Homo sapiens: one gene and its partners. The protein of the gene in region 3 interacts with the protein of the main gene of each other region in a pairwise test. Each region holds a gene or a part of one and is shown on either strand. Other genes may lie near its edges.

Region 1 (3,500 bases), on a different chromosome or scaffold from region 3:
CTCATTTTGTAGATGTGGAAACAAGAGGTCCAAAGAGTACGTCATGTTTATTTTGAGTCCTTCACATATCTTTTTCACCATACTGAACACAGAGAATTGTAATTATTTCACATTAGAGTATGAAATTTGCAGAAATGCCATTACAAATATATCTTAATTGACACAAACTTGATCAACAGGAAAGCTAATTTAAAAGCTCTGTGAAAATTATTGAATACAGTGAATCAAAAGAACATTCTGTAAATAATTAATATTCAGACAAAATCTCCTCTAACATATACCTCCAAATAAATGAATGAAACACAGATTTTACCCACCTCCCGTATGACTTGCTGCAACTCATCTTGCTCCACATTTTTATGCATTTCCTCAGCAGCTGGCATTGATGGGAGTTTTCCATGCCCTTCTTCCACTTCAGATTTAGGTCCTACAACTTCTGGGGCTCCTTCAGCTGCATCAACTTCCTCAGAACTTTCCAAATCTGGAGGTGTCTGCACAGAGCCTGTTCTAGAAGGAGCTGTTGGCGTTAGAGCCACCGATGCTCGGAACACTTTCTTCCTTGCCACTAATGGGGTTTTGGATTTGCCCACTGAGGCAGTAGAAGGTACTCCAGTTCTTCTGTTAGCATGAGAGGGACCAGAACATACAGAAGATGATTCTGATGTTGCTTGGGAAAAAACAGATTCTGAGCTTTCTCCAGGAGGAATTTCAAATCCCATTTCTCCAAGTCCCAGGCCCAATTCAGACTTCAGGTATGACTGCTCCTGCATCAGTTCAGTGACCTGGAGATCATAAAAAAATGTTATTCTTCTCTCTTGGAATTAAGATTGGTAGCTAAAAAGGTTAAAGTCCTGGTTGTCATTATTGCCTAAAATCATGTAATTTGTAAAGACATAAATCTATTCCATTAATTTAATAACTACTCAATTTTATTTGCAAAAATGGTAAGTAAAATTTAAATTCCTATTGAGATGAAGCAACAAAACAGGTAAACAGAATACATAGTAGGATGAAATTTTACTTGTTACCACCAAAGTGTCCAAATCACTTGTAAGGAAGAGTAACTAGTGAAAAATAGTTACTCATAGTGCTTTTGCCCCCAAATGAACCAATCTGTCTAACACAATAAAGACAGATTTCTGTTAAAAACGTGGTCATGTTACAGCTCTAACTACCTAAAGAACCAGGATCAAACTGTGAAAGCACATGTCTCCTGAAATGTAAATTAAAAATCAATTTTCTTTTTTTTTTTGAGATGGAGTCTCACTCTGTCACCCAGGCTGGAGTGCAATGGCTTGATCTCGGCTCACTGCAACCTCCGCCTCCCGGGTTCAAGCAAGTCTCCTGCCTCAGCCTCCCAAGTAGCTGGGATTACAGATGCCTGCCACCATGCCCAGCTAATTTTTGTATTTTTAGTAGAGATGCGGTTTCACCATGTTGGTCAGGCTGGTCTTCAACTCCTGACCTCAGGTGATCCACTTGCCTCAGCCTCCCAAAATGCTGGGATTACAGGCATGAGCCACCACACCTGGCTTATTATTTTTTAAAGACAGGGTCTTGCTCTGTCACCCAGGCTGGAGTGCAGTGGCACAATCATAGCTCACTGTAGCCTTGAGCTCCTGGCCTCAAGCAATCCTCCCGCCTCAGCCTCCTGAGTAACTGGGACTACAGGCACATATCACCATGCCTGGCTGATTTTTAAATTTTCTGTAGAGAAAGGGTCTCATTTTGTTGACTAGGCTGGTCTCAAACTCCTGGCTTGAAGCAATCCTTCCACCTCAACCATTTAAATAAAGTGCTGGGATTACAGGCATGAGCCACTGTACATGTTTTTATGGTGCATTACCTCCTTTAGTCAGAAAGATAAATCACTATTGCAATTCAGGTGGCTTTCTAGTGGCTTCAGACAGCAATGGACTTTCAAAGGTGAAAGTCACTTCCAATCAACAATAATTTATCAAATTATGTATTTAAAATAAACATATATTTCATCTAAACTAGGGAAACTATGTGTCTGAAATGTTGTATCATTCCCTTCCCCAGTGATTTAAGAGGAAAGAAGCTTACTGGTTCCATTACATTCAATGGAGAAGGGCATGACAAGTTATCAGCGCTTCTACTGCCACACATTCCCTGAAAAGGTAAGAACAATATATATATGTATATGTGTGTGTATATATACATACATGCATATATAATTATAATGTACATATATATTTTTTCAAATCACAAGACTTTTATAATAAAATTAATTGGCTAATTAGTGCCTGGAAGCATCCCTTTATGTCACAAAGGTTACTCTCAAGTGTCACAGATCCCATAAAATGCATTATTGTGAGTTAAAACTGATACAATATGCAAAAAGGATGTTCTAGTTCTCCCGTCACCAACATACACTTCTCAGAATGATAAATCAAAACCATGTTGAAAAGTACATTCATTAGCAATACAGAACATCCTTAGTCTATGCTATACATATATGTGTTTATACACCATTGTTTATTCTACTTCATTTATAGTATATACACACATAATTGTATGTGTGTATATTCATCCATTTCTTTTTAACAAAATCAAATACATTGTTAAGGTAACAAAGAATAATTCACTATTTCAGCATTTCAAAGCAACATATTCTACAACTTCAAAGATATTTGCAAAAATAATACAACTGTTGAAGTTCAAATGTTATGGAAAGAAACATTAGAAGTATGAAAAGTGGTACAAAAACATGTTTCTTTTTATTCTCTTGGATATATATCTATATATTTAGGAAAATACATATATGTATGTGTATGTATATATATGTATGAAAATATACAGGTATCATTTGATTCCTTTAAAAACAAATGGAAAAGAATCCAAAATAAAGAAAAAGTTTAAAAGGAACACTTTTTTATTTAAAGGCATGAAAGAAAAAAAAACAGCAAAATATGCATCTGTGTTCTCTGCAGTTACATGCAACAATTAAAATTTACATTAGTCATATGTTAATTCACTAGCATTTTTCCTTTAAAAACCCTCAACTTTCGTATAAGCCCTTATTCTTTCCTGTTATTAAAATTTATCATTAAAAATTTTCAACATATTTCTAAATATACTATTTATGACAATTATTACAAATTGTACATTCAACTGATTTGTGGGAAAGCTCCTTAAACAGTATGCATGCTTTTAATACCATTAAAATAAATGACTTGAAATGAAGGCACACGTCCTAAATTATTGGAACATTATAAATAAACCTTTGGTGAAAACTCCGACCACCCTCCAGGTAGCGTACCATGAGTGCGGAGGAGCGGAAGGGTGAAGGCATGCGCACAGCACGAAGCTGCTCCTCCAGGCCCAGCAGGCGCTCCTCCAGCTGCAGTTCCAGGTCCTGAAGTTCCATTCGGACTGAATTTCTCAAACCCTGGAGCTGATCAACTTCAAACCTATTGGTATGGTGAAGGGCACAAAATTGGAAAAATGCAGTTTGGAGATTCCTAATCACAAATCTT
Region 2 (3,500 bases), on a different chromosome or scaffold from region 3:
AGATAAACAGAAAAATAAGCACATGATTTCAAGTTATAAAGACAAATACTCCAACATAGAGGATTTTAAAATGGTTATCTTGGGAGTGAAGAAAGATTACTCTATGTACTGTAGGAACGACCTGTGCACTTTACTTTGTATTTTAACCTTAAAAATGCAGGTTTAATCTGATGGTTAGAAAATAACCCCTATGATGAGCTGAAACAGGCAAACATAGGACCTGTGTCTTGGCCTCCCATATCTGCTTTAGATAAAGTATAATGCAATTTCTACATTTTTTAGAAAGTGTCACACACGAAAATAAGTGAAGGGGGTAGTAGATAGTGGGAAATGGCAATGGTTGATTACTGAAAGGAGAGGTAAAACTCACTAAGGGAAATAGTAATGGGAGCTAATGCTAGAAATGCTGACTTGATAGTGGCATAAATCCACATGGTTCTGCAACTGTTTCCAGTAATTCAGACTGCAGATCTCCTTTGTGGCCAGAGAGACCATGAAGTCAACAGTGACAGAGTAAGAGATGTGTGAGATCACAGATGAATAGAAAGGAAGTGAAAGCAAGAGATGGCTGATAAAAACAAACACACTAAAAAATGGGGTAATACTCTTGATGAGGTTAAAGAGTAGGTATGGTACACAGTAACACACTGATTAAGCAGAAAAACGGGTTTAATTTTTTTTTTTTTTTTTTTTTTGAGATGGAGTCTTGCTGTCTGTTGCCCAGGCTGGAGTGCAGTGGCTCGATCTCGGCTCACTGCAACCTCCGCCTCCTGGGTTCAAGTGATTCTCTTGCCTCAGCCTCCCAAGTAGCTGGGATTACAGGCATCTGCCACCATGCCGACTAATTTTTGTATTTTTAGTAGAGACAGGGTTTCACCATGTTGGCCAGGCTGGTCTTGAACTCCTGACCTCAGGTGATCCACCCGCCTCAGCCTCCCAAAGTGCTGGGATTACAGGCGTGAGCCACCGCGTCCGGCTGGGTTTAATATTTCAGAAGCGAAACTGTTCTGGAATACAAGGCTCACACCAAGGAGAAGGCACTGAAGTTGAGGTGGCCAAGGAAATAAGGTGGGCAAGACTAAAAGTAGAGAGTAATGCCATGAGCCAAATGTTAAAGTCCCACAAACACAAAACAAAGGAATGACCAGGAAGACGGTAGACAGCAGCAAAGACCAGGATGAGGGTGGTAGAAGACACACAGCAGGCCTTAGACAAAGTATTCTAGACAAGGACAGAGGCATCGTGCTGTTGAAACAGGAGTGGGGAACAGGAAGAATGCCCCGGTGGGAACCTCAGAGTTCAAGGTACAGGCTCTTCTGCAGGGGCATCATGAAGTGTCATCTGGACTTGGCTAGTCAATGGATGCTTTTGCTTCTGAGCTTCATGACAGCCTTTACCACAGGAAAGTATCCTTTCTTTCTTCCCTCACTTCAAATTAAGAAATAATTCAATACCTTGTCAGTGGAAACACCTAGTGATAAATAATTGAAACTTACCCCTACTTTCCGTAAGAGATCCCCCACGATGTTTAGTGCTGATATCCTAGCAGAGGGAGTTAGTGGACTGGTACCAAAACCATTTGGTATAGCTAGAGAAAAATAAAAGCTGAGTGATTACACTTGCAGTTCCCTTTACATTTGGGTTTTGTTGTTGATGTTACAAAGTAGTGTAACACTCAATACAATATCAACAAACTACTTCAAACTATGGATAAAGTATAGATACCATAAATAGGCTAAACCACTGTCCAATTGGTGGATATTTACATTATATCAAATTTTTCGCCATTATAAGTAATGCTACAAGGACATATACTCTTAAACATCTAGACAAGTATTTCTGGAAAAGAGATTCCTAAAAATAGAACTGCTGGGTCAGAACATATGCCCATTTTTTTCACCTTAACAGACACTGCCAAAATGCTCTCTAAAAAGCCTGTGCTAATATCAGCAATCTATGCGGTGGTGCCCTTGATAATATTAGATATTATCTTTTTTTTTTTTGACAATTTGATAGTCACGTTTTTTAGTTTCTATTTCCATAGTAACTAGTCATTTGAATCTCTTCTGAAAATCAGCTGTTTAGTCTTTGTACATTTCTCTACTGGTTTGTCTTTCCTGTAATCAATTTGTAAGAACTCTATACATTCTGGATGTTCACCCTTTCTCTTATAGATGTTCTATCTCTCAGCGTGACATTCATCTTGTAAACACTGTGTTTCGGTAGGAGAACCTTTGGCTTTTCCATCTTAATGTCATAATGTTTCCCATACTTTCTCCTAGTATTTTTCTGATTTTTTTACATTTAGATCATTTAATTCACCTAGAAATTATAGTTGTCTATAAGATACATATCTAAATTTTTTCCTCCAAATGGAGAGCCAATTGTCCTAGTATCATTTAGGGAAAACTCATCTCATCTGAAATAGCACTATAACTATAAACTAAATTCCCTAAATATATGAATATATTTCAGTTCCATTGAACTATTAGCCTATTCTATCAGAAGTATGCTACTTTATTATAATGTTAAAATATATTTTGAGATCTCAAAAGGCAAAGATCCCTCTTGTTATTAGCCCATTTCAAATTTTTCTCAGCTGTTCTTGCACATTTACTATTCCAAAATAATTTTAATATCAACATATCAATTTTTTAAATCCTATTAGGATTTTTATTAGAAGTTGAAATTACAGATTGACTTGGGGAGAATGGATATTGTAAGAAAATTAAGTCTTCCCATTCAGAATCATAGTATTTACCATGATATTTACCCATATCTTCTTCCACACTCAGTAAGGTTTTCAGTCGTGCACATTTCTTAATTTTTAAGAGATAATATGACATCATGATTAACGGCTCTTGAGCTGAACTACTGTATTCAAATCCAGTTCAGCCACTGGGTAAGTGACCCATATGTAAGAGGGGGCAAATAACAACTACCTCATCATAAAGATGTTGTGAAGTTTAAATTAATGTACTTTAAAAATGCACGTAGTAAGTACTCAATAAAGGTTAGCTATTATTTTTTATGTTTGTTTTCCACAGAGTGCTAATCAGCAACGAAAATACTTGTGTGGCTTTTTTGTTGTTTATTATCCTTCTTCTCCTCAAGAATATAATCTCATTGAAGGTAGGGGCTTTGTCTTACCACTGTGCTCCCAGCATCCAGAATAACACATGACACATAACAGGCGCTCAACGTGATATAAAAAACCGCTGTACTGTTCTTGGCAGGGATTTCTAGATCTCATTTTTCCCTATTCAAGTTTTACATTTTAGGTGTTATTAAATCTGTGCTTTTATGGTAAGTTGCTTTAAATGCTTTTTAGAAACAAACATTGTAGGCTGGGCATGGTGGCTCATGCCTGTACTCTCAGCACTTTGGGAGGCTGAGGTGGGTGGATCACCTGAGGTCAGGAGTTTGAGACTGGCCTGACCAACATGGTGAAACCCCATTTCTACTAAAAATACAAAATTAGCTGGGTGTGGTGGCACACA
Region 3 (3,500 bases):
AGATGTCTGGGCAGTTCCCACCAACGCAGGCTGCCTCCCCTACGTCTTGACCTCACTATATTTCAAAGCTATAAGGCTGGGCCTCTTGCTGACTAGAAAAAAAAAAAAAAGAACATGCAAATCTTTGGGTACTCTAGATCATGGGTCAGCAAACTTTTTCTGTAAAAGGGCCAGACCGTAAATATTTTAGGCTCCATAGGCTACACACCCTCTCTGTTGCATATTCTTCCTTGTTTGTTTGTTATTGTTGTTTTTTAACAACACTTTAAAACTATAAAACCATTCTTAGCTCAGAGGCATACAAAAACAGACTGGGGCCTCCCCAGGACTGTAGTTTGCATCCATAAATACAGAAAGAATGTTTATAATCTCAAGTATAAAAACTTCTGGTGAAAGGGTTGATCAAATGCTAGCTGTATTTCTCCCCCTTCCAATGGCTTTCTACTGAGTCACTCTCTTTCCTAAAGAAGAACCTACTTTGCTACATAATTAAGCAGCAAAGTATTTTAAGGGCTGTTCAGATTCTAGAAACTCATAGCTGCAGATAAAATAGACAGATAAGTCAGATGTCAAAGACAAGACATTAAAAGATCTGGGCTCCAGGCTAGACCCTATTACTGTCACTGGGTCTTTAGCCCTGAACAAGGGACTTGCCTCTTAAGTCCCTTATCTCATAAGTATTGATTCTACACTAATAACAGATTGTTTTCAAATCTTGCAACTGAAAGTGTGATCCCTGGACCAGCTACATCAGCATCACTAGAAATGCAGAGCCTCAGGCCCCACCCCAGACTTGTGGAACCAGAATCTGCATTTTAACAAAAGCCCCAGGCGATCTTAGAATGCTCTAGAACATCTTTTTTGTCCAGCTGAAACACAGTTCATAAAATCTTTGTTAGCAATGAGGAGAGAAAGGGTCTAAAGACATCTTTCATGATGTCATGGTATTAAGTCTCTGACCTAACACATGTACCAGTGATTTCATAAAGCATTCCACTCTAGGACCAATTGACAGACCAAGATCTACCACTGGATCTTAAAATAAAACCTTAACCAGGTAGAAAGGAGACCTAGGGGAACAGGAAAATGTGTATTCCCCATATTATGGAGGGGTGGGGGCAGGGAATAGGTTAGAGAGAGAAATGACTTACCCAAGACCACACAACCAAGACAAACTAGGCGTATGACCACCACCAGGTTTCTTTCTTTCTTTTTTTTTTATTATACTTTAAGTTCTAGGGTACATGTGCACAACCTGCAGGTTTGTTACATATGTATACATGTGCCATGTTGGTGTGCTGCACTCATTAACTCGTCATTTACATTAGGTATATCTCCTAATACTATCCCTCCCCCCTCCTCCCACCCCACTACAGGACCCGACCACCACCAGGTTTCTTAATCTTCCTTAGTCAGGCCTTAGGTTTCATGAGAACTGAAATCATTTTGGTTTGGTAGAGCAGCAATCAGAGGGCTTGCTGTTGGCTTTGGGAAATTCACTTGCTCTCTCAGGGCACAAGTATCTGTAGCCATGAAGTGAGAGGGTAGAGCCAGGCGATTCCTAAAGCCCTGCTATAAAAGTCATGGTTTGGAAAGTTTTGAGATGAGGAGGCAGTCGGGGGGGTGCGCTATGCCAAGGGTCACCACAGTCACACCAAAGTCTCTGGGGGATGGGATCACAGAGCCAAGTCATTCGGTCCTTTGTGAGGAGGCTGAGGAGGGACCTGGCGTGGGCTCTAGCCATGCATCCCCTTGGGGCCACCTCAGCTGGTCACCACAGGCTGGCACGGATGCTAAGGATGTAGCCCATTTTACAGATGAGGAAAATAGGTCCTTGAGAGGGGCTAGGGCTTCTTACCAAAGCAAGGAATTCTTCCCTTCAACTGACAACAGTGCAAGGGTAGCCTGTATTAAGAAAACCTAACACATGAACACACAGATGTGTGCAAATGGTTGATTTGGGAATAATCAGGCTCTTTATAAATAGTGCATTATATTTTACCAACAGATTTGTTACAAAAAGGATTCATTCAGGGCTTTGATGGCAAGGCTCCCAATGCAATGCTTCTCACACTTGAATTCGCACACGAATTCCATGGGGATCTTGTGAAAATCCAGATTTGGATTCAGTAGACCCAAGGTGGGTAGGGTTGCCAGATAAAACATGAGATGCCCAGTTAAATCTAAATGTCAGAAAGACAATAAGATGTCTTGGTATAATTATGCCCCAAACATTCCAAGGGCCATACTCATGCTTAACTGGCACACTGTTTTTTATTTGCTAAATAAGGCAACCCTAAAGATGGAGTCTGAAATCCCACATTTCTGAAAAGCTCAAAGATGAAGCCTTAGTGCATTTAAAATGCAATTTAAATCTATGAAAACTATATTTTATGCAACCATGAATTTTATGGTCTCTTTTTTAAGACCACTGAACAGTCTAGGCAGGCATCTCCCACCTTCTAAAAGAGCATAGAAAGAATTCTGGCTGCCACTGGAACTGGGAACTTGCCTTCCAAGAGAAACAGGTACTGTGGTGGGAGGGGAGGTGGGAGGGGGATGGATACAGGCTAGCCCACAAAAGCCTGTTTTACCTCCGTTCTGAACGATACAGTTCCTTTGGACTACCAGTTCCTGAAGTGAAGCTCAGGACACCAAGAAACATGGCCGTTTCTTCTCTGAGTCCATGAAATGGGAAGGATCTGTCCCTACCTGCTTCCTTTCCAGGGCTCTTTGGAGTCAGATGAGATAATACAAATTCCCAGCATCCACATGATTGCACTGGCCAAGCATTGTGTTAGGTACTTTGTAGAATTCTGTGAAGTGGGTATTGAAGCCCTAACTGTATAGCTGAGAAAAATGAAACTCAGTGAGGTGATGTCCTCAAGGTCTTAGGGCAAGTGCAAAACATAAACCAGAAGGAGAACCAAGTTCTCTCCACTTCTTCGGCCTGGGATCTTAACTTGTTATGCTTTATTGCTGCTGAATTGTGCAAGTGTATTTGCCAAATGAATGAATGAAATGTAACGTTTCAGGAAAATGGTCGCTGTACTCTATTCTATAAAAGGACAGCTGAGCTTTTTATAACCAGCTTCAGATGCTCCTGAAGAATGCTGCCATTCTCACGGATGGCTGGTAGGAATAAGGACTACTGTAACCTTTATGAGCAGAAATTTGGCAAAATTTAGCATGACACAGATTATTTGCTTGGCCAAACTTTAGCCAGGCTTCTGAACCTTCTCCTAGGCCTACCTGTGCACTTCCTTGTAAAATCCAGTTTTAGCAAAAGAATCCTGCTAAGTCTGTTTAGCCAGAACCCCTCATCCTTGATATCTGATCAGGCTCCTCATCCTCCACCATGCCCCCACTGATGTTTGAATCACCCTGGTTTGTCTTCATCAATAATTTTGTTAGGTCGGTTTAGCAAGAATATCCCTTATTCCTGAGCTTCCTCTTAGTAATTTTCCATCCGCTGACCCCTACCCTGCTCTGCAGCTATC
Region 4 (3,500 bases), on a different chromosome or scaffold from region 3:
ATTTTCATTATCATTCAGGCAAAATAGAAAATTTTCTGGCCGGGTGCGGTGGCTCACACCTGTAATCCCAGCACTTTGGGAGGCAGAGGCGGGCAGATCACGAGGTCAGAGATCGAGAGCATCCTGGCTAACACAGTGAAACCCTGTCTCTACTAAAAATACAAAAAATTAGCCAGGCGTTGTGGCAGGTGCCTGTAGTCCCAGCTACTGGGGAGGCTGAGGCAGGAGAATGATGTGAACCTGGGAGGCAGAGCTTGCAGCGTGCTGAGATCGTGCCACTGCACTCCAGCCTGGGCAACAGAGCGAGACTCCATCTCAAAAAAAAAAAAAAAAAAAAGAAAGAAAATTTTCTAATAATTATTAGAAATTCTAATAATTCTAATAATTATTAGATAATTAGAAAATTTTCTACTTTATGTTGTGATTCATTTTACCCATCATTATATAAAAATATATTGCTTAATTTCAAAATATCTGAAGATATTCTATTTATGTGCTATTTAATTTTAGTTTAAGTCCACAGTGTTTAAAGAACATATACAGTCTGGTTTCAATCTTTTAATATTTATTACGACTTCTTTCATGGCCTAATCCAGGAGTTGGCAAACACAACCACAGGCCAACTCCAACGCTCTGCCTATGGTCATGGGAGCCTAAATGGCTATGTTTTTGCAGTAGTTGTATGTAGTGACACATATTAATTAAATCTAAGTGCTGAAGTATGTTGTATCTATATCCTTACTTATTTTGCAATCCTTACTTTATCAGTTACTAAAAGTTTTGTTCAACATCTCCAATTATTTCCCCTTTTGCTTTTGTCTCCTTTTGTTCTCTCCATATGTGTGTGTGTACACTTGTTGTTAGGTGCATAAAAATTTAGGCATATTATTACACATTTTTTTTCTGTTGAACTGGCCCATTCATCATAAATGTCTTTATTTCTTCTGATATTCCTTGCCTTAAAGAATACTTTATCTGATAGTCACTTTGCCATATCAGGCTTTTGTTTGTCAGTCTTTGTTGCCATCCTACTAATTTTAACCTTTTTTTGTGTTCTTACACCTAAAGTTTACCTCGTGTGTAAACAGCATGTAGCTATACTTCACTTAATCCAATCTGCCAACATTTAGTTTTTAAATGGGAAATTTAGGTCTTCACATTTAATGTAAATTAAATCCCCATTTTTCTATTTCTTTTCTAGTTGTCCCACTTATTCTCTCCTTCTCTATTCTTCCCTCCCATTTTCTTTTGGATTAATCCAGTATTACTTTACTATTCCACTATAGCTTTTTTTTAATTTTACCTTCCTATTGGTGGTTACCCAAGACAACAGAATATGCAAACCTGATTTAGCAGTCTACTTTAAATTGGTACTGTTACTACCTCCAAAACAGTGTACAAACCATACAACAATTTAACTGTATTTACCCATTCTGGCTTTGTCCTGTTGCCATATCTTTCACTTTTATGTATGTTACAAATACCACAAGACATTATTATTGTTATTTGAAATAGTCAATATTGTCTCATATTGTTACACCTTCTAGCACTCTTTACTCTGTGCATTAGTTTCACGCTTCCATATGGATACGTTTCCTTTAGCCTGAAGACTTTCCCTCAGTATATCATGAAATGCAATTCTGATGGTAATAAAATCCTTTAGCTTGAGTTATTTCTTTGGTTTAAAGCACCTTGATTTTGTGAAAAATATTTTCAGGTAAAGAATTCCAGCTAGGTTTTTTTTTTCTTTCAGCACTTTAAAGACATTATTCCATTAGCTTCTAGCTTCAATAATTTTGTCTAAAAGTCAACTGTCAGTCTTCTATGATTCCTTCGAAGGAAATATGTCCTGTCTTCTCTAAATGCATTTAAATTCTCTTTATCTTTGATTTTCAGGAACTTGACTATAATGTACTTGGATGGGTTTTGTGTGTATGTTTGTGTGTGCACTTGTGTCCACCCTGTTGGGCTTAGTGAACTTTTTGATTCAGTGATTTAAAGTTTCTCATCAGATTTGGAAAATTCTCAATTACTTTTTTCTTTAAATATTTCTCTTGCCCTTCCCCTCTCTCTTCTTCCAGGATTCCAATTTCATCGATGTTGGAACTTTTGTCTGTGTCTCACATAACTCCCATGCTCTCTTTTAGTCTTCTTCTGTGATTCAGTTTGGATATTTTCTGTTAACTTGCTTCTGAGTTTTCTCATTCAGATTTCTGATGTGTGCCATCTGGTTTGTAACAAATCTAATTCTCAACTTCAGACATTGTATTTTGAATTTCCAGGATACCCACTTGGTTCTTTTTTATGGACAATTGTCTTCTGAATGCTTTATATTTTCATACATTTATTTACCTCTTTCAACATACGTACTAGTTATTTTAAATTCCACTCATAACTTATCGGCCAAAAGTAGTCACATGGCTCCACCTAATCACAAGTGGAGCGGGAAGTGCAATCCTACCTTGCCTGGGGAAGGTATAGAGATAGACCAGCACTAATGACTACCACACTTCGCTAAGGTCACATAATAAATAAGCATCAGACATCAGGTGTGGTGGCTCATGTCTATAATCCCAGCACTTTGGGAGGCTGAGGCGGGCAGATCACTTGACTACAGGAGTTGGAGATCAGCCCGGACAACATAGTGAAACACGTCTCTACTAAACACACACACAAAAAAAATACGAGGCATGGTGGTGCATGCCTGTAATCCCAGTTACCTGAGAGGCTGAGGCACGAGAATCACCCTTGAACCCAGGAGGCAGAGGTTGCAGTGACCGATATCATGTCACTGCAGTCCAGCCTGGGTGACAGAGCGAGACCTTGTCTCAAAAAAAAAAAAAGAAAAGGCCAGGCATGGTGGCTTACACCTGATATCCCAGCACTTTGGGAGGCTGAGGCGGGCGGATCACAAGGTCAGGAGATTGAGACCATCCTGGCCAACATGGTGAAACCCTGTCTCTACTAAAAATACAAAAATTAGCTGGGCATGGTAGTGCGTGCCTGTAATCCCAGCTACTTGGGAGGCTGAGGCAGGAGAATTGCTTGAACCAGGGAGTCGGAGGTTGTAGAGCCACGCCACTACACTTCAGCCTGGTGACAGAGCAAGACTCCGTCTTAAAAAAAAAAAAAAAAGTCAGAGCTTGGATCTAAACACAGGTATTTCTGATTCCAAACATCTGTGAACTTTTTTTTTAACTATATCAAAACCTCTTTAAAAGGGCTAATTTATTTTGAAATTAAATGTTTTCATAAAATTTTAAGCTAATCTTTGAATAGAAAAATGAATACATTCTATATAAGTTCTCATATGAATTTACTGAAATAGCCTATTTTAAAAACGTTTAAATTAGGTCTAATATATATACAGAAAAGCTAAAAATATAAGTATATAGTGCAATGAACTATTGCAAAGTGAACACACTTGTGTATCCATCCCCTAAATCATGAAACAGAACATCACCACTACCCCACAGATCCCTCTCATACTTCCTCACAAT
Region 5 (3,500 bases), on a different chromosome or scaffold from region 3:
CTTGCCTGAACTAGAGGAGACTGATCAAAAGAACTCTGAGGGCCACCAATCAGCTGTTCACCCAGGCCTACTCATGAAAGCTATGGGTGGTGTTCACATTTGAATTAGTTGTCCTCAAATTTATGTGATGAATCAAACCCTTATCGCTGGGTTTCTTTTCTCTTTGCCAGGAGAGGGAAGTACGGGGTTCAGTTAAGTCCAAGAGGATCAATGTCTTGTTGGGACCAGGGAGTTCTGAACATGCACCCACAGACCCTGGAGGTTGCCTGCCCTGTAAGATGCAATCCCTGGGCTTCCCCAGCTGAGAGGAGAACTGGAGTACATGGCAGAGATGCTGCTCACCAGATACCCATGACCCTTTACATTTCCCAGCATCCGTGCATCTGGGTAAGGTCAATGAGTTATAAGAGAAAGCGATGGAAATCTCCTCCAGGTCAGATCCTGGAAACATCCTGCAGAGTCTCCCAGCCTTCTCTTTCCCTGTCATGGTTATCTTAGAGGCCGTGTATTTCTCATGATGTAGCTACAATATGGAGGAGGGCCATCTGACCTACATAGGAGTTTGTTTGAGCAAGAAATGAACCTTTATTGTGTTAAGCTATTAACACAAGATGAGGGACATTTGTTACTATTGCATAGACTATCCTATCTGGGCTAATATGAGTACCCTTAGGACTCTCATTGGGGCCCCTACCTTGAGGTGACTGTCAGAGATCTGGACTTTGTCACACATCTCCTGGAAGAGCTTCACACCTCCCTGGTCCAGGAGCACACAAACGAACACCCCACGCTTGTTGGCTGCCTCTAGAATGTCACAGAAGATCTCCACATCCGTGAACACATCCATCAGGATGACCAGGACCTGGGCCAGGGCAGAGTGCTCAGTTACCAGAAAGGTCAGGGGCAGGTGCTAACTGGTTTCACCCAAACTGCCTGAGTCCCAGTGGGCCTGGGAGAGCTGTTCCCATTGGGCCAGAGGGGAGAGGATGGGGTAGAGTGGGTCTGACTGGGCAGGATTAATGGAAGGAAAAGGAAGAGCTGGAGTGGAGGCCCCTGCGCCTGTCCTGATACCATCTCTCCAGTCCCACCACCTATCTGTTGGCCCCTATGCCCATTGTGGGAGTGGGGAGTGCAGAGGAGGAAGGGAAAAGTCTAGAAAGAGAAGGAGAGCAGAGAAGAACAAGAAGAAGCATCTCAACCGGTTCCAGAAGAGGAATAAAGTTAAGGTTATGGATTCTCAGCCACTTGGAGCTAGAGGGCACACTATGGCCACTGATTTTCAAATGCTGTTAAGCCGTGGAATCCTATCCTCAAACAAAATCCCATGTGGAGGCACCGTATATAAGCGCCTAGAGCAAGCTGCTCCCCGTGGGATGGAGAAGGGAGTCACGCTCTACCCACAGCTACTGCATCATGTGTCACAGTAGAAACTGGGGAGGGGAGTTCTAGACCTTCAGTGAGCAGGAGAGACATCTGTGTTCCTCCTGCCAAGCATTCATTCTCCCTTCTTCTGTCAACAGCATCCCAATCTGACTTTAAGTAATTGCCTCCCCTCCACAATCAATGTGGTTTGGAAGGGTCTATTGCCATTCTTTGACTGGATATGGGGAGACCACATGACCAAGGCTAGACCAATGGGAGCATGGCATCCCCTGTTGGCCACAGACATTGGTCCAGAGGTGGTCACATGATCTAAGTTATTCTAATAAGAGTCAGCCCAGGACTTTAGCTGGGACTCCTGGGAAAAGGAGGTGTTCTTTCTACGAGGTTGCTTAGCTGGTATTTTATAAGCAATGGCTGCTGGCAACCATTTTTGCTACCTCTTGGGGAGAGCCTGCCTGACAATGAAGCCATCCCTGGAGAAAGCAGCCAGGAGGTAGAGACAGAGTCCCAGCATTGTCATTTGGACACCTGGTTCCAGCCATGCCTGAGACCAGTGCCACCCTTGACTTTTCCACTGTGGATGTTAATGAATGTTTCTCTTCTTCTTAAGCTTGTTTGGGTTTACTCTCTGTCACCCAGTCATGAGTCCTTTCTAATACCTTAATTGTGATATACTGACAAGCAGCTTATTAGGCAGTCATTAAAAATGTTAATTACTGCCGGGCGCGGTGGCTCACGCCTGTAATACCAACACTTTGGGAGGCCGAGGCGGGCGGATCATTTGAGATCTGGAGCTCGAGACCAGCCTGATCAACATGGTGAAAGCTCGTCTCTACTAAAAAAAAAAAAAAAAATTAGCTGGACTGGTAGTGCACGCCTATAGTCCCAGCTACTGGGGAGGCTGAGGCAAGAGAATCGCTTGAACCCAGGAGGCAGAGGTTGCAGTGAGCCGAGATCGCACCACTGCACTCCAGCCTGGGTGACAGAAAGAGACTCTGTCTCAAAATAAAAAAATAAGAAAATACATAAAAATTTAAAATGTTAATTTTCTTTCTTTCTTTCTTCTTTCTTTCTTTCTTTTCTTTCTTTTCTTCCTCTCTCTCTTTCATTTTTTTTCTGTAGACATGGGGTTTCACTATGTTGCCCAGGCTGGTCTCGAACTGTTGGGCTTAAGCAATCCTTAAGCCTCAGCCTCCCAAATTGCTGGGATTACAGGAGTGAGCCACCCCACCTGCTCCATTATAATCTTATGGGAGCACTGTCATAGATGTGGTCTGTTAGTAACCAAAATGTCATTATTCCGTACATGATTGTAGGTAAGCCCAAAGCAAAAACTAACAGTCATGTTAGGATGGGGGATGTGAACCCAGAAAATAAAACAGGGCTCAGTTAATTTAGAAAGTTTATTTTGCCAAGGTTGAGGACATGCCCGAGGAAGTCCTGACGACATGTGCCCAAGGTGGTCGGGGCACAGCTTGATTTTATACATTTTAGGGAGACATGAGACATCAATTAATAGATGTAAGAAGTACTTTGGTTCAATCTGGAAAGGTGGGACAACTGGAAGCAAAGGCAGGAAGACTCAAAGCCAGGAGGGAGCATCCAGGCCACAGATAAGTAAGACAAAAACTGTTGCATTCTTTTGAGTTTCTGATTAGTCTTTCCAAAGGAGGCATCAGATATGCATCTATCTCAGTGAGCAGAGCGGTGACTTTGAATAGAATGGGAGGCAGGTTTGCCCTAAGCAGTTTCCAGCTTGAGTTTTCCTTAGTGATTTTGGGGGCCAAAGATACTTTCCTTTCACAGGGAATACGGCCATTCCCTTTCTTCAAGATTACCTGTAATAATAAGTTTCCACTATCTTTCTAATCATTGCAATATATTTTTTAAAACCACCGCCATCTGGGAAGTAGCCAAGGAAAGAGAGGTGTCTTACTGGCAGGCCAAACTGATGGCTGGTATCCACTTGGAATCAACTTTCTGTGATGTGGATGGATAGCTGGACAGGGGAGGGAACTCCTCAGAGATTGCTCACCCTGGGCAGGAAATCGGAAAAGATGTTCTAATAATGAGGCTGTGATCATTAGAACCATGGCCCTGTAATCACACAATTAATT
Region 6 (3,995 bases), on a different chromosome or scaffold from region 3:
AGACTAGAGACTTAGAGTCTCAAGCTAGAGGGACTTCAAAGAATACCATGTGGCCAGGCACGGTGGCTCACGCCTGTAATCCCAACACTTTGGGAGGCTGAGGCAGGTGGATCACCTGAGGTCGGGAGTTCGAGACCAGCCTTGCCAACATGGCAAAAATCTCATCTCTACAAAAAATACAAAAATTAGCCGGGCGTGGTGGTGTGTGCCTGTTATCGCAGCTACTCAGGAGGCTGAGGCAGGAGAATCACTTGAACCTGGGAGGCAGAGATTGCAGTGAGCTGAGATCGTGCCATTGCACTCCAGCCTGGGTGACAGAGTGAGACTATGTTTAAAAAAAAAAAAAAGAAAAAAAGAAAAAACTCATGGCAGGCAGAGTGACTTACTCAAGGTCATGCAGGATTGGGATTAGAACTGTGTTCTCTGGACTTCACTCCAATGTCCTTCCTCACCACACCAAGCTGCCTCACACACTCCCATCTCCTCCCTCTCACAAGTCTAGAGCACCTGAGATGCTGATCCAGGCATGAATGGGCTCTGAAGTCCATAGACCTGTGCTCCAATTTCAGCTATTTACTGTGGGCAGTCACTTAACTCCTCTGAACCTCAGGTTCTCAGTAAAATGTGGATAGCCAAAGTAACTATCTCAAAAGGTTGCTATAAGTGTTACATTAGCCAGGATAACATATCAAGTGCCTAGAACACAGTAGGAATTTAATAAATGGTAGCAGTCATTTATTTTAGGTGGTAGGATCCCCAGACCTGAAAAATAGTCCTTGCCCAGCAAAGCCAAAAGAAGGGAAGAGAAGTAGGTGCCAGCAGCCCCCACAGTCTTTCATTTCCTCTCATCCAGTCCCAGGCCCCCTCAGAGCTCAGAAGGTGATACAGGTGGTCAGAGGAACCCAGTGACCAGAGCTTCGGGGAGAGCAAGGCAGGGGGGCCAAGCCAATCAGAAAGGGGAGGGAGAAGGTGCAGGGTGACAGCCAGGCTCCTGCCATGGACAGGGAGCAGTGAGTCAGGTCTGCAGAGGTAAGAGGAGCAGCCGTGTGGGTGGGGGGTGGGGGTGGGGTGAGTCACAGCCCAGCCCTGCCCAGCCTAGGAGGAGAGGGCCAGGAGAATCCAGGCTGTTCAGGTCATGGGCAACCCCAGAGGGCCACTGGGAGAGGATGAAGTATGGGAGCCCAGGCTCAGTTTTGGAGTATGTGCTTGATTTATACAAAGTAGAGAGAGTATCCAAGGAAAGCTCCTGGGAATGAGGGAGAAGGGCAGCTGAGGAGCAGGTGGAACTAGAACAGGTGGGCATCTGTCCAACCAAATATAGTCATTCCAGGGTACAGTGCTGAGTCCTTGCTCTACTCTGGATAATCTCCTCAGGTTTGGAGGCAGGAGAGCTGGCAGGCTCTGGACTCTGCCCTGTACCTGTACTTGGCCACAGCCAAAGAGGCTGGTTGGAGGATCCTACACAGCCCTCCCCATTTGGAGTCTCCTCAGGAATGCAAGGTGCTCAGTAAGCTGCAGGTTTCCGGTAGCATTCACAGATATCCAGCATTTTAATACAGCCCCCTAGGGGCTCAGTGCTCACCATTCACAGCCTCATCTAGGGCGGCCAAGAGCTCCTCATTCCCCTCTGTTTCCCCAATCTGGAGACAGGTGGATGGAGGAGGCCAACACTGCACACTTTCTAGAGATGTGCCTGGGCATCTCCGCATGTGTTACCTCTATTTTATATATAATAGTCATTTGATATGGGAATTAGAACTGGCGCCCATTTTTACATAGTAGCTCTAGGGAAAGCATCTCAACCATTCCTTGTTCCTATCACCCAGCTTACCTAAGAAGAACGTAACAACCCCAGACAACACGTCTGATTCAATTTGCCCCGGAGTACCCAGAAGGGCAGCAACCCAGCAGGTGAGGCAATGACAAGAGAGAGAGAGTGGGACCTATATTCCAGGATCCCCCAGTGCCCATCAGGCCGATCAGCTTTTCCCCGAGGTTCTCCATGAATACCCTCAACCCACAGTATTGCCCAAACAGCAAGAATCTTGGATCTGCTTATTCTTCAACAGCCCACCAAGGTCCAAGGATGGGGGGCCTCCACACCCACCTCTCAAAAGGTCCAGATCTGCCTCTTGCAAGTCACGGACTTTCCGGTCCCGGCCGCCTCCTAGGGGTAGCAGCTGGTCCGTGGATACAGTGGGAGGGTCCGGGTTGCTGGTTCCAGCAGCTAGCCCTCTCCGAAGCCGCTCCAGGCTCTCGCCAGTCACCAGTGCCGAGAGAACTGCGGGCGAGAGGCCAGGCCGCATCAGACACCCGCCCAGACCCCTGACCAACACGCACCGATGCCGACGCCCGTCCGCCAGAGCGCAAGGGCCCCACCAAGTGGCCCGTGCCGGGTGCGCTGCGGCGACCTTCCCCCATGCCCCCAGCACAACGCCCCCATCCCCCCGATCTCCGGGGGCGTCGGCAGCCCTCTTACCTGCAGCCAGAAAGAGCTTCAGCACCACCGACGGCAGCAGCTTCATGGTCCCGCACCGAGAGGAGGCGGCGAGGCACCAGTCACTTTCGAAGCGGCGGCCACTGGGCGCTGGCACCAGAGCTGGGCGGCGGAGCTCAGGAGATTCCGCCGGGCACCGTCTGCCGCCCGCCTCTGCGTGCAAGCCTGGCCGGGACCCAGGCGCAGCTCGCTCTTCTTGAGTGTCTTGTCTTGCTCACTCAGCCCGCCCGCGCGGCCGCCCGACCCCGCGCGCCTAGGTCAGGCCAGCCAGCAGCGTGGCCCGCGTAGCTCCTTCGGCCGAATGAGCGCTGCCCGGCTCGCGGCCGGGAATAAGGCTCCAGGAGGCGCGGAAGCTCCGCCCCGCCCGGCGCCGCCCCCTCCCTCCTCCCGTGCTGGGAAGCTCGCCCGGCTCGCGGCGCCGGCAGCGCAGCCCCCGACCCCGCGGGCGCGGCGGAGGACTGGGCGGGAGGAGAGGGCGGCGTTCACAATTTTTGGGACCAGGCCGAGGCAGCCGCGGCCTGATTGTGGGTAGGGCTACTGACCGGCAGGTGGCGGAGAGCGGTTCCTACCTTTCCCCAAACGCCTGTCACTCTGCAGCCTTGTGACTGACTGCTGAGCTGAGTTCTGTTCCGGGCCTGGCCTCTTGCTTCATCTAAGCCCCATACCAGGGGTCTCCATCCCTGTCACCCTCTAAGTTTCAGAAGCCCACCTTTTGGCCTACCAACACGGCAAGTATCAAATAATAATTAATTCATCTATCATTTAAAAATTAGACACGTGAATGCCAGCCGTTCTCATAAACCCGAGATAACCAGAGTTGAAGTTGCAGGCACTTAGTATCAATCCAGCAAAAGCAAAGGAAGTTAGTACTCTCTTAGTCTCTGGAGTGGCTTCCTCCCATCTTCCCTCAGGGGACATTAGGATTTTTGAACTATGGGTTGTAATTCCCAGGCTTCTGAGATTGGAGAGACACAGGTTGTGAAACAAGCCTTATTCTTTTCCTTGCCTTTGACTGCCACCTTTTTCCTCAACATAAAAAATGAGCCACCCTCCCATAGGACCCAGCTGGCTAACCTAGATTGCTGTTTCACAGACACTAGGTGTTTCTCTTCCAACCCATGTGCTTTTGCAGGGGTCTTCTGGAGTCACTGTCCTGACCCAAAGAAATGAGTGTCTCAGTAGGTATTTCAGTTTCCAGGGACGTGCTGGGGAGAGAGTTGTTTGACACAGGGCTGGGTTGGCTTTCAGAGCCCTGAAATTGTGCCAGATAGAGCACTTGCCGGATTCTGCCTGTGTGTAGGGATAAAAACAGGCCTGCTATTTATACACAGTCTATCCCACTGTCCCTCCCTATCCCCACCTTTGCAGGGGTCAGTCTGGCCCTGCCCTCTTAACTTGCTCCAGTAACCTAGGCCTAGGTTTCCATAGTGCACTGGAATCACTACAGACCTGAGTTTGAATCCTGCCTTTGCTACTTACTGTGTGACCTTGGACAAGA
Region 7 (3,195 bases), on a different chromosome or scaffold from region 3:
GCAGTTCCGTACTCACAGGCTGGGATGCCTCTGGAGCATGCTCTGATATTTGATAGCTGCCTCCAGGACCAAGGGATGTCTTTTTTCTGTCTTTTCTCTGAAGAGACAAGTAGAACACTGATTTGTGCCCAAGCTTTCACTTTTGGATTGTAAAGAGAAGTTCTCTTCTACCTTATTAGGAGTTAGTAATTGTTCTGTCAGCTTTTTCTAAGTTGTCATCTAAGTCATTAAGGCATTTTTAAGTGAATTCTGTGAGGTATTTTTAGTCAGGTATTTACTATAATTTTCATCCTTACATGGGCTTTGGAATCAGCCACGCCTGAGTTTAAGTCCTATCTCTGCTATTTACTAAGACAGATTAACTTCTCTTGAACCTTGGTTTTCCAGTCTGTAACATGGCACTCTTGGATTGCAGGGAAAATTTAAAGTGCAAAAGTGGCACTTAGGCTCTCAATACATTCTCTTCTGTGCTTCTTCTAGGAGTGGGGGTGGTCCTAGAAGGGAACAGGCTGACTGATAAAGCCAATTTCCCTTAGAGGGAACTTACATTTTAAAGGGAGAGATGGGAACGACTCTTCCCCACATGTACCTAAGTGCACCCTTTAGGGTCAGGTGCGTTTAGGTAAGAGTTCAGGCTAGGCCAGAAAAGGGGGCTCAGGACTCAAGCTCTGGCACCACTACTCACCTCCCAGGCCAGGGGAGGCATGTGGGAGGTGCTTCGAGTGTGCACTCAGCCCTTGCTCATGTCCCTGTGCCCACTCTCCCATCCTTTTCCTAAACTTCCTCCCTCTAACACCCCAAAATGGCTGACAGACCAAAGAAGTCAGGAATCCAACTTAGACTCTGGAATAGACTCTGGACTTCAGTTTGCTATCTTTGAGTACAAGTAGGGTAGGTTAAAACAAAAGCAAAAACCTAGTCTCCTCAGAAACCACCACCACCACCTCCTCCTTTGAATCAGTTCAATAAGCAGAATCTTTGGCTTCCCCAGAATGACATGTGGTAAAAGGTAAGTTTGTAGTGAGAGGCCCGTAACTGTTATTACCTTTACAAAAAGTATTTTGTTAAAAGAGACCCCCGTCCCCACACTTCCCTTGTACTTTCTTTTTAAAAATTATGAAAGACAGGGGCCAGGCATGGTGGCTCACGCCTGTAATCTCAGCACTTTGGGAGGCTGAGGCAGGCAGATCACCTGAGGTCAGGAGTTCAAGACCTGCCTGGCCAACACGGTGAAACTCTGTCTCTATTAAAAAATACAAAAATGGGTCAGGCGCGGTGGGTTACACCTGTAATCCCAGCACTTTGGGAGGCCGAGGCAGGCGGATCACGAGGTCGGGAGATCGAGACCATCCTGGCTAACACAGCGAAACCCCGTCTCCACTAAAAATACAAAAAATTAGCCAGGCGTGGTGGCAACGCCTGTAGTCCCAGCTACTCGGGGCTGAGGCAGAAGAATGGCGTGAACCAGGGAGGCAGAGCTTGCAGTGAGCTGAGATTGTGCCACTGCACTCCAGCCCGGGCAACAGAGCAAGACTGTGACTCCACAAAAAAAAAAAAAAAAAAAGAAAGAAAAATACAAAAATTAGCTGGGCTGGTGGTGTGTGCACGTAGTCCCAGCTACTTGGGAGGCTGAGGCAGAATTGTCTGAACCTGGGAGGCAGAAGTTGCAGTGAGCCGCGATCGCACCACTGCACTCCACCTTGGGTGACAGAGTGAGACTCCCTCTCAAAAAAAAAAAAAAATTACCAAAGACATGACAGTTATCACCTTATAGTAAAAAATGTAATTATTAAAAATCTTTTCCCCCAGCCTGGGCAACATAGCAAAACCCCATCTCTATTAAAAACATTAAAAATTAGCTGGGTGTGGTGGCATGTGCCTGTAGTCCCAGCTACTTGGGAGGTTCAGGTGGGAGGATCACCTGCCCAGGAAGTCAAGGCTGCAGTAAGCCATGATTGCTCCACTGCACTCTAGCCTGGGTGACAGAGTAAGACCCTGTCTCAAAAAAAAAAAAAAAAAAAAAAAGAAAAAAAAAATCCTATCCCTAGATGTAGAAGAGGATATTTAGAGCTCTTTTAAAAAAAAATTAGAGAAAGGGTCTATGTTGCCCAGGATAGAATGCAGGGGATAGTCACAGGGGCGATCATTGCATACACCACATTCCAGGCTTGGAAGCTCTTTTCTTTAAACCTGCTGGAGAATCCCATGGCCCAGGACTGCAGGTTCAACTAAAGATCCTACAGTGGCATCAATCTTATATTTTTGACAACCTCCTATTTCATGTTCATTGCTGTAAGTTCTCTAAGGCTATGAATTTACACATTTCTGTTAAGCACTGTAATGCCAAGTCACACGGGCATCCAGTGACACAAAGTCTAGCAGGGGCTCTTGAATATAGGGTGTCATATCTTGGTAGACTGAAGGCATGGTGCAGGACAGTTGAGTACACTTACCTGACCATTCCCTATGTCCAAGCACATGTGCAGCTTCGACTCGCCTCTGTGATAACGATAGACATGGGTTGCCCCTCCTTCCTCTGGCACAGATGAATAATATTTCTAGAGACGTAATGTCAAAGATGTTAGCTAACCAAATTGTCTTGTCAAATTTTCAAAAAACCCTGATATTTGGGCAAAGTGCAGTTAAGGAGGGAGGCAAGAGAGCAAAGGTGAATTACCTGCCCTCTTGACAGGCCTCTGAAGTCATGCAACAAACCTTAGCCCACCCAAAGTGGCTGCAGAGAAAGAAATGCATTTGGCATCCCCGTGCTGCCACCTGCTGCCTCCATAGGGCAAGAACGCTGGCTAACTAAAGGTGGGCAGGACCATGCTCTCTGCCAGGTTAAACAAATTTCACATCTTTGCCCCCATGTCCAATGCACATATCCTTTCATTTCCTCCCCTAAAAAATGTGGATGAACGGTTCCATGTTTATTGTCTAAGTCTCAGACCAGGACACGGGAAGAGAGGGGTACATTTTCCTGAGATTTAGAAACACAGCAGGAAATGAAACAAACCCAAGAGCTGCTCTGCAGCCCTTTTCTCTGTGCTTCCTGCGCGTGGGGGAGTGGAGGGAGAAGTCTCTAATTTAAGAAGAATCTTCCGAAAGATCGGAAAACAGTTACATTTCTCTTGTCTGCTTCCTTCCTCCCCCTCAAAGTTAGCCTTAGACTTGCCCTTGATAATGACTAATGAC

What was found.
Region 1: the proteins of GSN (region 3) and ITPRID2 interact in binary tests that used the Homo sapiens proteins (3 or more experiments, as listed by UniProt).
Region 2: the proteins of GSN (region 3) and NDEL1 interact in binary tests that used the Homo sapiens proteins (3 or more experiments, as listed by UniProt).
Region 4: the proteins of GSN (region 3) and LONRF2 interact in binary tests that used the Homo sapiens proteins (3 or more experiments, as listed by UniProt).
Region 5: the proteins of GSN (region 3) and FAM83A interact in binary tests that used the Homo sapiens proteins (3 or more experiments, as listed by UniProt).
Region 6: the proteins of GSN (region 3) and HBEGF interact in binary tests that used the Homo sapiens proteins (3 or more experiments, as listed by UniProt).
Region 7: the proteins of GSN (region 3) and AKIP1 interact in binary tests that used the Homo sapiens proteins (3 or more experiments, as listed by UniProt).

Annotation. Positions count from the first base shown.
Region 1 is NC_000002.12:181,919,230-181,922,729, reverse strand, and holds part of ITPRID2 (protein ITPRID2), read right to left. Parts: intron 3,435-3,500; coding exon 3,284-3,434; intron 2,134-3,283; coding exon 2,068-2,133; intron 783-2,067; coding exon 318-782; intron 1-317.
Region 2 is NC_000017.11:8,452,884-8,456,383, reverse strand, and holds part of NDEL1 (nuclear distribution protein nudE-like 1), read right to left. Parts: intron 1,589-3,500; coding exon 1,497-1,588; intron 1-1,496. UniProt on the Homo sapiens protein: Required for organization of the cellular microtubule array and microtubule anchoring at the centrosome. May regulate microtubule organization at least in part by targeting the microtubule severing protein KATNA1 to the centrosome.
Region 3 is NC_000009.12:121,274,662-121,278,161, reverse strand, and holds part of GSN (gelsolin), read right to left. Parts: intron 1-3,500. UniProt on the Homo sapiens protein: Calcium-regulated, actin-modulating protein that binds to the plus (or barbed) ends of actin monomers or filaments, preventing monomer exchange (end-blocking or capping).
Region 4 is NC_000002.12:100,316,002-100,319,501, forward strand, and holds part of LONRF2 (LON peptidase N-terminal domain and RING finger protein 2), read right to left. Parts: intron 1-3,500.
Region 5 is NC_000008.11:123,189,165-123,192,664, reverse strand, and holds part of FAM83A (protein FAM83A), read right to left. Parts: intron 863-3,500; coding exon 695-862; intron 1-694. UniProt on the Homo sapiens protein: Involved in mitochondrial maintenance during adipogenesis. May be acting by playing a role in the maintenance of normal mitochondrial function.
Region 6 is NC_000005.10:140,343,804-140,347,798, forward strand, and holds the start of HBEGF (proheparin-binding EGF-like growth factor precursor), read right to left. Parts: upstream 2,801-3,995; 5' UTR 2,526-2,800; coding exon 2,480-2,525; intron 2,282-2,479; coding exon 2,108-2,281; intron 1-2,107. UniProt on the Homo sapiens protein: Growth factor that mediates its effects via EGFR, ERBB2 and ERBB4. Required for normal cardiac valve formation and normal heart function. Promotes smooth muscle cell proliferation. May be involved in macrophage-mediated cellular proliferation.
Region 7 is NC_000011.10:8,914,189-8,917,383, reverse strand, and holds part of AKIP1 (A-kinase-interacting protein 1), read right to left. Parts: intron 2,559-3,195; coding exon 2,454-2,558; intron 98-2,453; coding exon 17-97; intron 1-16. UniProt on the Homo sapiens protein: Enhances NF-kappa-B transcriptional activity by regulating the nuclear localization of the NF-kappa-B subunit RELA and promoting the phosphorylation of RELA by PRKACA.